Linked DNA regions of Homo sapiens. The protein of the gene in region 1 purifies or fractionates together with the protein of each later gene. This does not show direct contact. Each region holds a gene or a part of one and is shown on either strand. Other genes may lie near its edges.

Evidence for each region. Proteins that work in one complex are often made in the same cells at the same time.
Region 2: the proteins of SNRPB2 (region 1) and SNRNP70 purify together in Homo sapiens (affinity purification with mass spectrometry; 6 studies listed by BioGRID and IntAct, with this or other methods). This does not show direct contact.

What each region holds. Positions count from the first base shown.
Region 1 is NC_000020.11:16,725,543-16,733,030, forward strand, and holds the start of SNRPB2 (U2 small nuclear ribonucleoprotein B''), read left to right. Parts: upstream 1-4,483; 5' UTR 4,484-4,622; intron 4,623-6,125; 5' UTR 6,126-6,160; coding exon 6,161-6,224; intron 6,225-6,621; coding exon 6,622-6,794; intron 6,795-7,488. UniProt on the Homo sapiens protein: Involved in pre-mRNA splicing as component of the spliceosome. Associated with sn-RNP U2, where it contributes to the binding of stem loop IV of U2 snRNA.
Region 2 is NC_000019.10:49,081,631-49,088,450, reverse strand, and holds the start of SNRNP70 (U1 small nuclear ribonucleoprotein 70 kDa), read right to left. Parts: upstream 3,001-6,820; 5' UTR 2,815-3,000; intron 2,047-2,814; 5' UTR 2,037-2,046; coding exon 1,890-2,036; intron 1-1,889. UniProt on the Homo sapiens protein: Component of the spliceosomal U1 snRNP, which is essential for recognition of the pre-mRNA 5' splice-site and the subsequent assembly of the spliceosome. SNRNP70 binds to the loop I region of U1-snRNA.

The DNA of each region.
Region 1 (7,488 bases):
TTCAAATAAATACGAGCTCCTTTGAAAGAAATAGTTGATTTGTGTTTCAAAAGGAAGATAGTATTCTGTATCTGGTAGTATCTCTATGGCTCTAGAGATAACTACAGTTTGATACTAGAATAATCTACCAACCATTTTTTTCTTTTTTCTTTTCTTTCTTTTTTTTTTTTTTGAGATGAGGTCTTGCTCTGTTACTCAGGCTGGAGTGCAGTGGTGTGATCTCAGCTCACTGCAACCTCCACCTCACAGGTTCAAGCAATTCTCCCACCTTCCCACCTCAGCCTCTGAAGTAGCTGGGACTACAGGCATGCACTATGGCACCAGACTAATTTTTGTGTGTGTATATATATATTTTTTTTAATTTTTTATTTTTTTAATAGAGATGGGGTTTCACAATGTTGGTCAGGCTGGTCTCAAGCTCCTGACCTCAAGTGATCCACCCACCTCAGCCTCCCAAAGCTCTAGGACTACAGGCATGAGCCACCATGCCTGGCCTACCAACCATTCTTTTTTTTCTTCTTTTTTTTTTTTTTTGAGACAGAATCTGACTCTGTTGTCCAGGCTGGAGTGCAGTGGCATGATCTTGGCTCACTGCAACCTCCACCTCCTGAGTTCAAGCGATTCTCCTGCCTCAGCCTCCAGAATAGCTGGGATTACAGGCGCCTGCCACCACGCCCAGCTAATTTTGTATTTATAGTAGAGACAGGGTTTCACTGTGTTGGCCAGGCTGGTCTCGAACTCATAACCTTGTGATCCGCCTGCCTCGGCCTCTCAAAGTGCTGAGATTACAAACTGAGCCACCGCGCCCGACCCCAACCATTCTTAAAAAAGAAATGCTTAGGTTCTTGCTACCCAAAATGCGGTATGGGACCAGCAGCATCAGCATCATCCGGGAGTTTGCTACAAATGCAGCTTCTCAGCACTGGATTAAGATATCTGGGGAATGCCCAAGAAATCAACAATATATCACTTTTGAAATTACACAATCAGGGCCTGACAGTCTTTTTTTTTTTTTAAAGCTGTTCTTTTTAAATTTTGTGTTTTCAAACTGTCCTAAGGCTTAAGACTCAAAAAAAATTACAGGGATTAATCATAGGGGAAGCAAAACCCATTATATTTAAAAGTTGTGTGTGCATAATATTTTATTTCATGGGAGCATCTCATGGGACTGAAATCTTAATTTTCTAGTCTCAAAGAGAACGACAGTTGTATGATGCTACTTTAGCTCCTTTAGGGAAGGGCAGGTGATACAATACTGAGCACAACCTACATGTCTCACAAAAAGTTCACCAAAAAAGTTCAGGTTTTCCCCACACTTCTTTGGATTAATGATCAGGTCCTCAAAGAAAAACTACCATTTCCAAACTTTATGGAATGTGCACATTCTCATAGCCTATCTGAGACATCACCCATTCTGGGGAGAGGGTATTTTGCTGCATGTGAAAGACACACTATTCTTAACATTAATACAGTAGTGAACATCAGAGGCAATAGTCATATTTGGGTTTCTTTCATTCCTAAAAGCAAGAATGTATCCACAAAGAATGAAATGTAAGAATTAAGTAAAATGAAAGAAAATTGCACAAAATTATTTCCTCCCTGAATTGGGGGTGGGAGAGTGGTGCTTTTTAGGAAGTTTCAGTCAACATTATCCCAACCTCCCTGGAAAACATAAACCTGATTTGGTGCTCAACAATAACGCCTAGATTTGTTTAATGCTTGTTGTGAAAATAATTTCACTCTAGATACATTTCTTAATGTAATCACCACCTGGGGAGAGAAAGAAGATACAAACGAATTGCCATACATTTTGTGACTCTATGTAACATAAATAAGACAAAATTTATCCACCAGTTTTATGGTGCATTTTCCTTTATACATGGCTCCTTCTTAAAACTACTGCAGCAAGATACCAAAAACAATTAATGAGAAACATAAAACACGTGCAGATAAGGTAGGGAAATGTATGTGTATTCAGAGTCACTAAGAGACACCTCAGTTATCTTCCTTATAATTTAGACATCTTGGCACAGTTTTATTCCCTACTGTTTGTAGTAATTTTTCTGCTACTCCCAAAATAAGCAAGTTTTATCATCTGCAAATACATGACACTTGGATAGGGTGGTTATAACGCTGCCTCCTTGTTTCTCTCGATTAAAAAAAGCCTGTTTCACAGGAAAATAAATCACGATACCTAACCCAAATGTGAAAGAACAGACTGAGCAGAACTAACAAAACTCATTTGCTCTTCTAGTTTTTAAAAATGTGAGTTTTGGACATCTGATTCCTGATCTCACCCTCAAGAAGTGGATCTGGTTATAAAGTGATGATGTTTTACAGTACATGTGACCATAGTTTAGCTGCTATAATATTCTTAATATAGTTACATAGCCAGGCTATGCAAGGTTTCTCACAAAACCAGAAAAGCTATTCGATCCTTATCATTCCCTTCCTGTACTGTTCTCAATAACTGGCTTCTCAAATCGTTCAGGAAACCACTGAGAATCATTAACGGGTTATTGGAATGCCCAGAGTGACTGCCCAAGGACAGGAAAATGCACTGGCTCTTTTTAGAAGAACCTGGAAAAGTGCATGCAGACCATTGCGGCTGAGTTGGCAATGGATGATTTCCTTCTCACAGTGTAATGTACAATAGCTGTAATTTAATTGTTAATAGAACACAACATGCAGTCTGTCTTCAGGCCTCTGTGTTTCTTGTGGTATTTTCTTCCCAGGTTGGAGTGTTTTTGTATAATCACATCTTATTCTCTTTTAACAGTTATCAACTCTTGGCTAGATCCCCTTATACAATACAGAGTATAGTTTATTCTCAGTAGTGTAGCCATCCTCATTATTATCAAACAGAACTAATTGCTGAGATGCTCATAGTAATATGCAAAACAGCTTGTCCTTTGTTATTTAGAAATTGTTTATATTAAGTTTATATTCTCTTTTAATTTGTTAAAGATATAATTCTTTGACTGAGATAGGACATTTCTTCTCATTGGTTTATTTATTTTAGAGATGAGATCTCACTATGTTGCCCAGGATGATTTTGAACTCCTGGACTCAACCAGTCCTCCTGTCTCAGCCTCCCCAAATGCTAGGATTACAGGTGTGAGCTACTACACTCAGCCATTTCTTCTAGTTTTAGATCTATATAATAAAACGATGCTTTTCTGTGATCCCTTAACATTCTCTACACTCAGGTGCATGTTCAAAGCATATTTGTTTTACTGTTGCCTAGTTTTCCATGTCATTCATTGAATTATCCAATGCATATTAATTATCAGTCACTTTTCCCATTACTAAGGGTACTTGAGTGAACAGAGCAGACAAAAACCCCACCCTTAAAAAGCTTATATTATTTTCAAGTTGTTGCAACTTTGGGTGTTTTTAAAAAATAAAAATTCCCAGCTGATAAAACCAACTTATTTGACAGCTACCTGCCTCACCAGTAGAACCAAGTTATAGCCAGAATTCAGAAATAACATTTTTGAGCATTTATTGTGTCTGACAATGTGCCAATCACTTTACATTTATTTTAGCTCATTTAATGCTTACAACAACTAGAAGGAGGTACTATTAGGATCCCTATTTTACAGATGAAAAAAGTGAAGGTCAGAGAGATTAGTTAAGCAGAGGGTACAAGATTAGGTTCCAGTTGACTCTTAACAACCATTTCATATTCCAGGTGATGCTTTACAGACATCTGATGAATGGATGGATGAATGAATGCATGCACTTTGGGAACTCCCATTCAGCTTGGCATAAATACTAACTCCTTAGAATACCCTAGAAAAATCTAGACCTTTTGTTGGAAGAAAAGAGTGGGAAGGGTGGTAGGGAATTATTTTTTCGAGTGAATTGAGGCAGATGATCTTACAGATGACTGGGTTCTAGTCAGCATGGTTGCCTTATCTGGTGAGAGATGAGAATTGGGCAGACACCAGTTCTGTCTGCCCTGGGCCCTCAAACTGAGTAGCCTCTGAGATTCAAGTTCATCAGCACAGTGTTGGAGGACAGTTCCTGCAGAGCCCCATGAATCAGAGGAGACTCGGAGGCAGGAGGAACTGGCTATCCTAAAGGTGATTTTAAACCGGGGTAGCTAGAGCCCAAAGAAGGGCGAAACCAGGACTAACTGCCCCATAGCATGAGGGGCAGCGCCTGTAAAATTACATAGGATTTGTAAAGGTGGAAGGCACTGTTGCGCCGGGTAAAGCTTCGCAAGGTCGTGGTAGGGGAAATGATTCACTCCCCTTCACTATTCCCTCGCAGCATGGTCCTCACAACCCCCTTCTCTTTCCCCATTTCCATTTCCGGACTCTTCTCCTGCCCGCAGGGCAGACGCACGCGCAGAGAGATTGCCAGCCCTGGCTGCCAGAGACCCGGAAGCATCGATCGGCTCTGTGCTCGGCTTCTAGACTTGTCGGCGCTCGATTGAGGAGCGTGGCTACGTTGCTTCCGGTGCCTGGCTCCGTTTCCTGCTTTTGGTTCTTACAGTAGTCGGCGTAGGCCTTAGGTGGGTTCGTGCGCCTTCTACCTCGCTGTTTCGGTTTTCCTGGCTCCTCGGCCCTTTTCTCCCCTGTTGCAGCTGGGAGCGGACGAAGCGCGAAGCTGGGGTGGGTACGCGTTTGGCCCGGGTTTGGATCTCGGAGGGGCAGGCTTGGGGGTGAGGAGACTGACTCTGGGGCCGGGCATCGCGTGGCAGCTCCCTTGGACTTCGTTAGGGGGCCTTGGGCGAAGGTGCTTGTGTCTGGAGAGGCGGGAGGCTTGCGCGTACGAAGTAAAGGATAGTTAATGTCAGTCTGCTCGTGCGAGGCGTGGACAGTTCACTGCGCTTTCAGGTGTCTTCCAGCGGCTCCCTTTTGGTGGTGGCGGGTAATTCAGGGTGTCCCTGTAACAACGCAGCCCACGATCAAACCTCGCATGAAACCCTGCAAGAGCCTCCCCTTTGTCCCCCTACCTTCACTTTGACCTCTGCCTCAGTCACTTCCCTTTCGTCGTCTCCTTTGCGACCCCTGCCCCTTCTCCAGATTTCGATTTAGGGGGTCGCAAGGCTTTGAGAAGCGTTACGTTTTACCTGTTACCTGCACAAGTGCAGCCCCTGCTTGTAGGCTCTTCCCTTGTCAATCATCCAATGCAGTTCACATACAGTGGATGCTCTGTAAATACTGTGAGATAAAGGAATATGTGGGGCACACAAGGAAATCATCCAAGTTCACAATTTGCAAGTAAAAACCATGTAAAAAATGCAATAGTGTGGTATATGAGGAAGACAAGTGTAGAGGAGAAAGCAAGGGCTGAATTTCCAGGCCTGATGCTTATTAGCTGTGTGACCTTAGGCAAGTTCCTTACCTGGTAATAGCTGTTAATAATAGCTACTCTTAAGTGTTTACCGCTGATGCAGAACTGTGCTAGAATTCATTTAGTCTTCTGAGTTCTATTGGGTAGGTTCTGTTACCATTCTTATTTTACTGATGAGGACCTGAGAGGTTAAGGAACTTCCCTCAGGCAAACAGCTAGTAAGAAGCATAAATAGGATTTGAATTCACATCTGGCTGATACTGGAATCTGAGTTTAATCGTCATGCCACACTGCTGTCATTGAGCTCCTTTCTTTCAAGTCGGTTAGAGATAACCTTGGAGTCCAGACAGCTTGGTGATGCTGTATACAAATTAATAGGTATGGAAGGACTTTGTAAGTGCACCCATTAAGTAGTTGGCAAACTTCATTAATGTCTAACCTTATGATTTTTACTGGATGTACATTTGCTACTTTGGTCATTTTTCTTCAAATCTACATTTTAAAATTATTTCATTGAGGAGGTGGAAAGAAAATGTCACGTGTCATAAGTGAAACGTAAGTGTAAAAATAAATGTGTTGAATTAAATGGTGTTACTAAAATCTGGCTAGGTATTGGTGCTCCAAGTTTTGAATGTGAGAAACTGTTCTTCTTCTGTATGAAAAGGAGGGCTAGTAGGTGCTGGAGATACAATAAAGGCTACAGCCAAACTGACATTTTCTGACAACTGGGATTGAAAGAGAAATGAAAAGTTAATAATTCTTGTGTTGTGTCCTTATGCCACAGTCCAGTATAATTTACTCCTTCCTTTTTATAACAGATTTTTTACTGTCTCCTGAAGAATTTAACACAAACATGGATATCAGACCAAATCATACAATTTATATCAACAATATGAATGACAAAATTAAAAAGGAAGGTAAGTGCTTTTTAGAATACTTGTTCACTACTAAAATGTGTTTATTTACTACTGTCTTAAAAATTGTACTGCCTCAAAACCTCTTACCTCATCATCTTAGTGCCTGAAATAATGGTTTATCCCATTTCCTATAGGGATTTGAAGGCTTTTAAAAAACAAAAATAGGTAGGAACTGACAGTGTGTACAGTCTGTTTCTACTCATAGATATAATGGTTTCATATAACTTTTAAAATTACATATAGCCAATGGGAATAGTATATGTTTTTATAAATATTAAAATATATAACTGTATAAATAAGTGAATGGTGGGGGGGGCAACTCAATGCAGTATCATTTTATGAAGACTTTTGTCATTACTTTATTACCAATAACTTGTTTCTTTTCTAATTTGGACAGAATTGAAGAGATCCCTATATGCCCTGTTTTCTCAGTTTGGTCATGTGGTGGACATTGTGGCTTTAAAGACCATGAAGATGAGGGGGCAGGCCTTTGTCATATTTAAGGAACTGGGCTCATCCACAAATGCCTTGAGACAGCTACAAGGATTTCCATTTTATGGTAAACCAATGGTAAGCCAATTCCATTATTTCACTTTAATCAAGAAATTAATGATATTGATGGGACAGTAGATTTGTAAATATGCTTGAAACTGTGGCTATTGCTTTCTGCTTTTAATTATGTGTGTTTGGGTTTATGTATTTTTATAGAAAAACAGTAGTGGTAGAGTTTAATTTATGACAGTTCAGATGGGCAAAAACAAAATACATTGAGATGTAGAATATTTTAAAAAATAATGGCAGTCTAGGCAATAGTCTTATCTCAAAAAGTTAGAAATTAATAATATCCTGGAAGACTTGAAAAGAAACCTGTTTGTAAACTTGTAAAACATTACGAAACAAAAGTCATGAGTCAAAGAGGAAATTCAGTCTGAAGTTTTAGAATATGTCGTAGTGAAATACTATGTGTCAGAAGCTGCACAGTCTAGATGAAACAGTGATCTAAGGAAAAATGATAGGTTTAAACTCATAGGTTTTAGGAATAACAATGGAAATGAAATGGTTATGAATGGAGAGTTTTAAACTCAGGAATGACATAATGAGATTCACATCTAGCTGCTGGATGAAGGTCGCATTGTGGGAGGGACAGAAAGGAAGTGGGAAACTCAATTAGGAGGCCCTTGATGTAAGTCAGAGATGGTAGAGGATCAGATAAGGGTGACCACAGAGTGTGAAGCAAGGGGTTTCTATGTATGAGTGAATACAC
Region 2 (6,820 bases), on another chromosome or scaffold:
AAAGTGGGCAGATCACAAGGTCAGGAGATCAAGACCATCCTGGCTAACACGGTGAAACCCCATCTCTAAAAATACAAAAAATTAGCCAGGCGTGGTGGCGGGCACCTGTAGTCCCAGCTACTCGGGAGGCTGAGGCAGGAGAATGGCATGAACCCGGGAGGCGGAGCTTGCAGTGAGCCGAGATCACGCCACTGCACTCCAGCCTAGGCAACAGAGCGAGACTCCAAGTCAAAAAAAAAAAAAAAAAAAAAGTACCTGGCTCCCAGGCATGGTGGCTCACACCTGTAATCCCAGCACTCTGGGAGGCCAAGGGGGGTGGATCACCTGAGGTTAGGGGTTCGAAACCAGCCTGGCCTACATGGTGAAACCCCATCTCTACTAAAAATACAAAATTAGCCAGGCGTGGTGGTGCATGCCTGTAATCCCAGCTACTTGAGAGGCTGAGGCAGGAGAACTGCTTGAACCGGAGGCTGCAGTTGGCTAAAATCACGCCACTGCACTCCAGCCTGGGCAACAGAGCAAAACTGTCTCATAAATAAATAAATGGTAACTGGCACATGACCTGCATCATCAAAGGGCACCTACCACCCGCCTGTGCCCATTAAGTTAATTGGCCAGTAATATCTCTCAAGTGCGGGTTCACCAAGGGTGGCAAATCCCACTGAAGACATACCTTTCTGTTATCTACGAAATTCTGCTCTGCAACTCCCTCGCCTCCAGCTGCCCTTACCTACCCAATGCTAGAACGTTCTTCTTGTAACTTCCGACTGTGTGCCAGCTTTTCTCAGGTGTGCTCTGATGCACCTAAGAGATGACCCTTGTCATCCCATTTCACAAATAAAAACACAGAGGTCCAGGAGCCTAAGTCATTCATTCCTATTTATCCCAAAGGTGCAGAGCTAAGATCCCCATCTGCAGTTTTAAGCCCTCCAATACTCAATACTGGGTGCTAAGCCTTTATGAACATCATCTTATTAACAATAAAAGTAGTAAACAGAGTAACAAAGGCTGACATGTGCTGACTGCTTGGTGCCAAGCCCCCTGACATACAGTTTGCCATTTAATTCTCCACCAACATTATAAGGGTGCTACCACTATCCCCTTGCTAAAGATAAAGAAACCAATGCATTAAGAGGATACAACATTTGCCCAAAGTCAGAGCTGATAAATGGTGTGGGTTAGGCATGAATCCTCAACCACTACTCACTGAATTTTCACAAAAATTCTACAAAAGGTGTACTATCAACCCCACTTTTTTTTTTTTTTTTTTTTTGAGACAGTCTTGTTCTGTTGCTCAGGATGGAGTGCAGTGGCGCGATCTCGGCTCATTGCAACCTCCGCCTCCTGGGTTCAAGTGATTCCCGTGCCTCAGCCTCCCAAGTAGCTGGAATTACAGGCACCATGTCCGGCTAATTTTTGTTATTTTTAGCAGAGACGTGGTTTCACCATGTTGGCCAGGCTGGTCTTCAACTCCTCACCTCAAGTGATCCGCCTGCCTCGGTCTCCCAAAGTACTGGGATTACAGGCGTGAGCCACCGTACCGGGCCACAACCCCACTTAAAAAAAAAATTTTTTTTTTGAGAGACGAAGTCCTGCTCTGTCACCCAGGCCGGAGTATAGTGGCACAATCACAAAGCACTCCAGCCTCCGACTCCTGGGCTCAAGCAATCCTCCCACCTCAGCCTCCTGAGTAGCTGAGACTACAGACGCACTCGACCACACCCGACACCCGGCTCCAACCCCATTTAAAACAGAGAAACTGAGGATCACAAAGGTTAAGCCCCTCGCTTAAATCACGCAGCTGGCAAAATGGCCAGAAGCTGGACTCGCAAATCCAACCCGTTGCTCCCCAGAACCCAAACCATTCCTGGCCTGCTCAGTGAACTCACCTCAAACTCTCGAATGTACGGCGCAATGCCACAATAAGGTTGATTGTGGTGTTTTTCATGTGGCAGTTTCTCCAGGGGTGGCAGGTATGGAATAGGGTCACGGGGGGCAAAGAGGGCCAGAAGGTTGGGCGGCAGGAACTGGGTCATCTTGCCAAGTCTGAGAGCAGAAGCAGGACAGCCTTAGGTTAGATCGGGTCTGCACAGAGAAAGCCCCTGTTACTCCTTGACTCTCAAAATAAGAAAGACAGGAGAAAAGTCTCGGAATTAAAACAGGCTCTGTAAGGGCAGAGAACAGTCCTGTGTTGCGGAGAAAAGGGTACGTCTTGGTGGGGGTGGAGGTGAAAGGCCGGTAAAGAAAACAAAAATAACGGCTGGAAAAGGGTTCCTGAAGAGTGAAGTCTCAGAGTCCTCTGACACGAGCTGTGGGGCGGAGAGGTTCCCTGGGAATTTCTGGGGAAATCAAGGACCCGAGGAGGGAGGCCCAGAGCAGCTGTGGCTGCTCGTCCCGTGCCGTGGAGGGCAAATTACGAGATGCAGTTTGCAGGGTCCTGGGGATCGGAAGTTTCCAAGCAAAGAAAGAGAAACATAAGGAGCGAAGCCCCAAAACCAAGTGCTTGTGGGTAACAGACCTGGACCCCGCAAAAAGCGAAAGGAATTATGGGTAAGGGTCCAGGACAACATAGACAAACGAAAAAGAAAAAAGGCCACACACCGCAAGGGCCTGTGGGTAGGGAACCACGAGGGCGCTGTGGGAAGCGGGCGTGGGTGCCCAGAGATTTCGGGGTCCGGGAAAGGGATGCAGAAGGGACCTGTGGCGGGGACGCGGGAAAGGGGCCTGGCCGCGGGGAAGAGGACCGGGCCCACCGCTGGGGCTTCTGGGTAGCGGCCCCGCACCCCGTCGGGCCACTCAGTCACACTCACTCACCGCGTAGCGCCCTCCTCGCTCTGGCGTCTGTCCGGAGGCTCGCGGCGGCTGCGGCAGCCCCTCAGCAACAACAACTCCTGCTTCGGCTTCCACTCCGGGGGCGTCCACGTCCGTCTGATTCCGTCGCCCGCTAAGCGAGCGCACCAGGCCGCTGCTCAGCCACCCGCGCGGCCTCCGATAGCGACTGGAGCAGGGGGTGGGTCCCGGCCGCAAATCCCTCCGCCGTCCTCACTGCGCACGCGCCGTGCGGTGCCAACAACAACCCACACACTAGGACCCGGCGCTGCCGCGGGCACAGCGCACGCGCGAGGTCACTACCCCGCCTTTGGGCACCTTGAGTACCTCAGCCGCGGGGGGCTGGCTTCTGCACTGCGCGCGCGCGCTTGCCCCAAGCCGCCCCTCCACCTCCCGCTTTCCGCGCCGAACCGCCTATGTCCGCGAGACTCTCCCTGATGCTCCGCCCCTTTCCGATCACACTTCCCGGATCTTTCGCGCATGCGTTTTGCGTAGAGAACTGTAACGTACCTCTCCGCCGCCTAGCAAAGAGTCCCTAGGTGAACAGCCTGATTGCGTTGATGTCTAATCTATTCAATCAATAACTATTCATCGAGCATCTCGTGTGTGCTAGGCACTGTCTGGGCTTTGGGGGTACAGCACGTGATTAAAGCAAAGTCTTCTGCTGCTAGGGCTTACATTGTACTGGGAGAGACAATAAAAGCATTTAACTGAATAAAGATAATTTGAGGCCAGGCGCGGTGGATCACGCCTGTAATCCCAGAACTTTTGGGAGGCTGAGGCGGGCAGATCACCTGAGGTCAGGAGTGTGAGACCAACCTGACCAACATGGTGAAAGCCCGTCTCTACTAAAAATACAAAAATTAGCCGGGCGTGGCCGTGCGCGCCTGTAAGCCCGGTTACTCTGGAGGCTGAGGCGGGAGAATCGCTTGAACTCGGGAGGCGGAGGTTGCAGTGAGCCGAGGTCGTGCCATTGCACTCCAGCCTGGGCGACAGAGCGACTCCGTCTCAAAAGTAAATAAATAAATAAATAATAAAAGATAATTTGAGATAGTGGCCAGCATAATGAAGAACGATGGAGCAGAATAAAGGGATGGGAAGTGAGAGCGAGGCTGTTTTAGAAAGGGTGATAATGGAAGGCCCCTCTGAAGAGGTAACATTTGAATAAAGGACAGATAGAAGCGAGATCTGGGGTGGGGCCGGGGGGGCGGTGTTTAACAGTAAGTGCAAAGGTCCTGAACTGAGACCAGATGGCAGGAATCTCAGGTTGTTGGCCATGAGATCAGAGAGCTGGCACTTGTTATTTAGAGCCCTGTTCTTAAGTATTGTATCTTAAGTTTTGTGGATGGATTCAATAGCCTGTTTAATAACTACAGAAATTATTGCAAATTAAAATGACTAATTTTATGTTTCAAGAAAAAGGCCGAGTGCAGTGCTCACGCCTGTAATCCCAGCACTTTGGGAGGCCAAGGCGGGCAGATCACCTGAGGTCAATAGTTCGAGACCAGACTGATCAACATGGAGAAACCCCGTCTCTACTAAAAATACAAAATTAGCTGGGCATGGTGGCACATGCCTATAATCCCAGCTACTTGAGAGGCTGAGGCAGGAGAATCACTTGAACCTGGGAGGCAGAGGTTGTGGTGAGCCAAGATGGCACCATTGCACTCCAGCCTGGGAGACAAGAGCAAAACTCCGTCTCAAATAAAAAAAAGAAGTGGGAGGATCGTTTGAGCCGAGAAAGTTGAGGCTGCAGTGAGCCAAGATTGTGCCACTAGACTCCAGCCTGGGCGACAGAGCGAGACTCCGTCTCAAAAAAAAAAAAAAAAAAAGAAAGAAAAGGGCTGGGTGTGGTGGCTCACACCTGTAATCCCAGCACTTTGGGAGGCCGAGGTGGGCGGATCACCTGAGGTCAGGAGTTCGAGACCAGCCTGGCCAACATGGTGAAATCCCATCTCTACTAAAAATACAAAAATTAGCTGGGAGTGGTGGCACGCACCTGTAATTCCAGCTACCTGGGAAGCTGAGGCAGGAGAATTGCTTGAACCCGGGAGGCAGAGATTGCACGACTGCACTCCAGCCTGGGCAACAGAGTGAGAATCTGTCTCAAAAAAACAAATAAAATAGGCCGGGTGTGGTGGCTCACACCTGTAATCCCAGCACTTTGGGAGGCCAAGGTAGGAGGATCCCTGAGATCAGGAGTTCAAGACCAGCCTGGGCAACATGGCGAAACCCCTTCTCTACTAAAAATACAAAAATTAGCTGGACATGGTGGCATGCACCTGTAATCCCAGCTACTTTGAAGGCTAAGGCAGGAGAATCGCTTGAATCTGGGAGGTGGAGGTTGCAGTGAGCTGAGACTGTGCAACTGCACTCCAGCCTGGACAGAGCAAGACTCTATCTCAAAAAATAATAATGATGGCTGGGCACGGTGGCTCACACCTGTAATCCTGGCACTTTGGGAGGCTGAGGCAGGCAGATCATGAGGTCAAGAGATCGAGACCATCCTGGCCAACATGGTGAAACCCTGTCTCTACTAAAAATACAAAAATTAGCTGGGTATGGTGGCACGTGCCTGTTGTCCCAGCTACTTGGGAGGCTGAGGCAGGAGAATTGCTTGAACCCAGGAAGCAGAGGTTGCGGTGAGCCAGGATCGTGCCACTATACTCCAGCGTGGCAACAGAGCGAGACTTTGTCTCAAAACAACAACAATAAAAATAAAATAATAATAATAATAAAATAAAAGGGAGAAATCTGCCAAAGGAAAGGGACAATAGGCTTAACAGAAGTCTGAAACACAGCAGAGAAGACATTAAACTTTAAAGCTCTAGCCTGGCACAGTGGCTCACACCTGTCATCTCAGCACTTTGGGAGGCCGAGGTGGATGGATCACGAGGTCAGGAGTTCAAGACCAGCCTGGCCAAGATGGTGAAACCTCATCTCTACTAAAAATACAAAAATTAGCCAGGTGTGGTGGCAGGTGCCTGTAATCCCAGCTACTCAGGAGGCTGAGACAGAAGAATTGCTTGAACTCGGGAGGCGAAGGTTGTCGTGAGCCAAGATTGCACCACTACACTCCAGCCTGAGCAACAGAGAAAGACTCTGTCTCAAAACAAAAACAAAAACAAAAAAAAACTTTAAAGCTCCAAAATAATCCCTGATTCCATGTTCTGCATCCAAGGCACACTGGTGCAAGGAGTGGGCTCCCAAAGTCTTGGGCAGCAAAGTCCAGCCCCAATGTCTCCTCACACAGGTTGGAGTTTAGTGCCTGCAGCTGTTGTAGGCTCAGGGTGCAATCTGCTGGCAGACCTGTCACTCTGGGATCTAGAGAGGAGGGGTCCCCTTCTCACAGCTCCACTAGGCAGCGCCCTGGTGGGGACTCTATGTTAGGCCTCCAACCCCACCTTTCCCCCTTGGCACTGTCCTAGTAGAGGCTCTCTGTAGGGACTCCAACCATGCAGCCGACTTCTGCCTGGACACCCAGGCTTTCCTACACATCCTCTGAAATCCAGGTGGGAGCTGCTAAGCTTCCTTCACTCTTGCATTCTGTGCACCTGCAGGCTTAATCCCACATGAAAGCTGCCAAAGTTTATGGCTTGCACCCTCTGGAGTGGTGGCCCAAGCTGTACTTGGGACCCTGTGTGTCATGGCTGGTGATCGAACAGCAGGGATGCAGGGGAGCAGTGTCCCCAGGCTGAGCAGGAGACAGGGCCCTGGATCTGGCCCAGTAAACCACTCTTTCCTTATATGCCTCAGAGCCTGTGATGGGGGAGGCTGTTTTGAAGACTCCTGAAATGCCTTCAAGGCCTTTTTCCCATTGTCTTGGATGTTAGCACTTGGCTTCCTTTTAGTCACGCAACCTCTCCAGCAAGGCAATACAGCCTGCTTCTATTTCTCTCCTAAAAAATGCTCTTCCCTTCTCTACCACATTGCCAGGTTGTGACTTTTCTAAACTTTTATGCTGTGCTTCCTATTTATTGATTGATTTTTC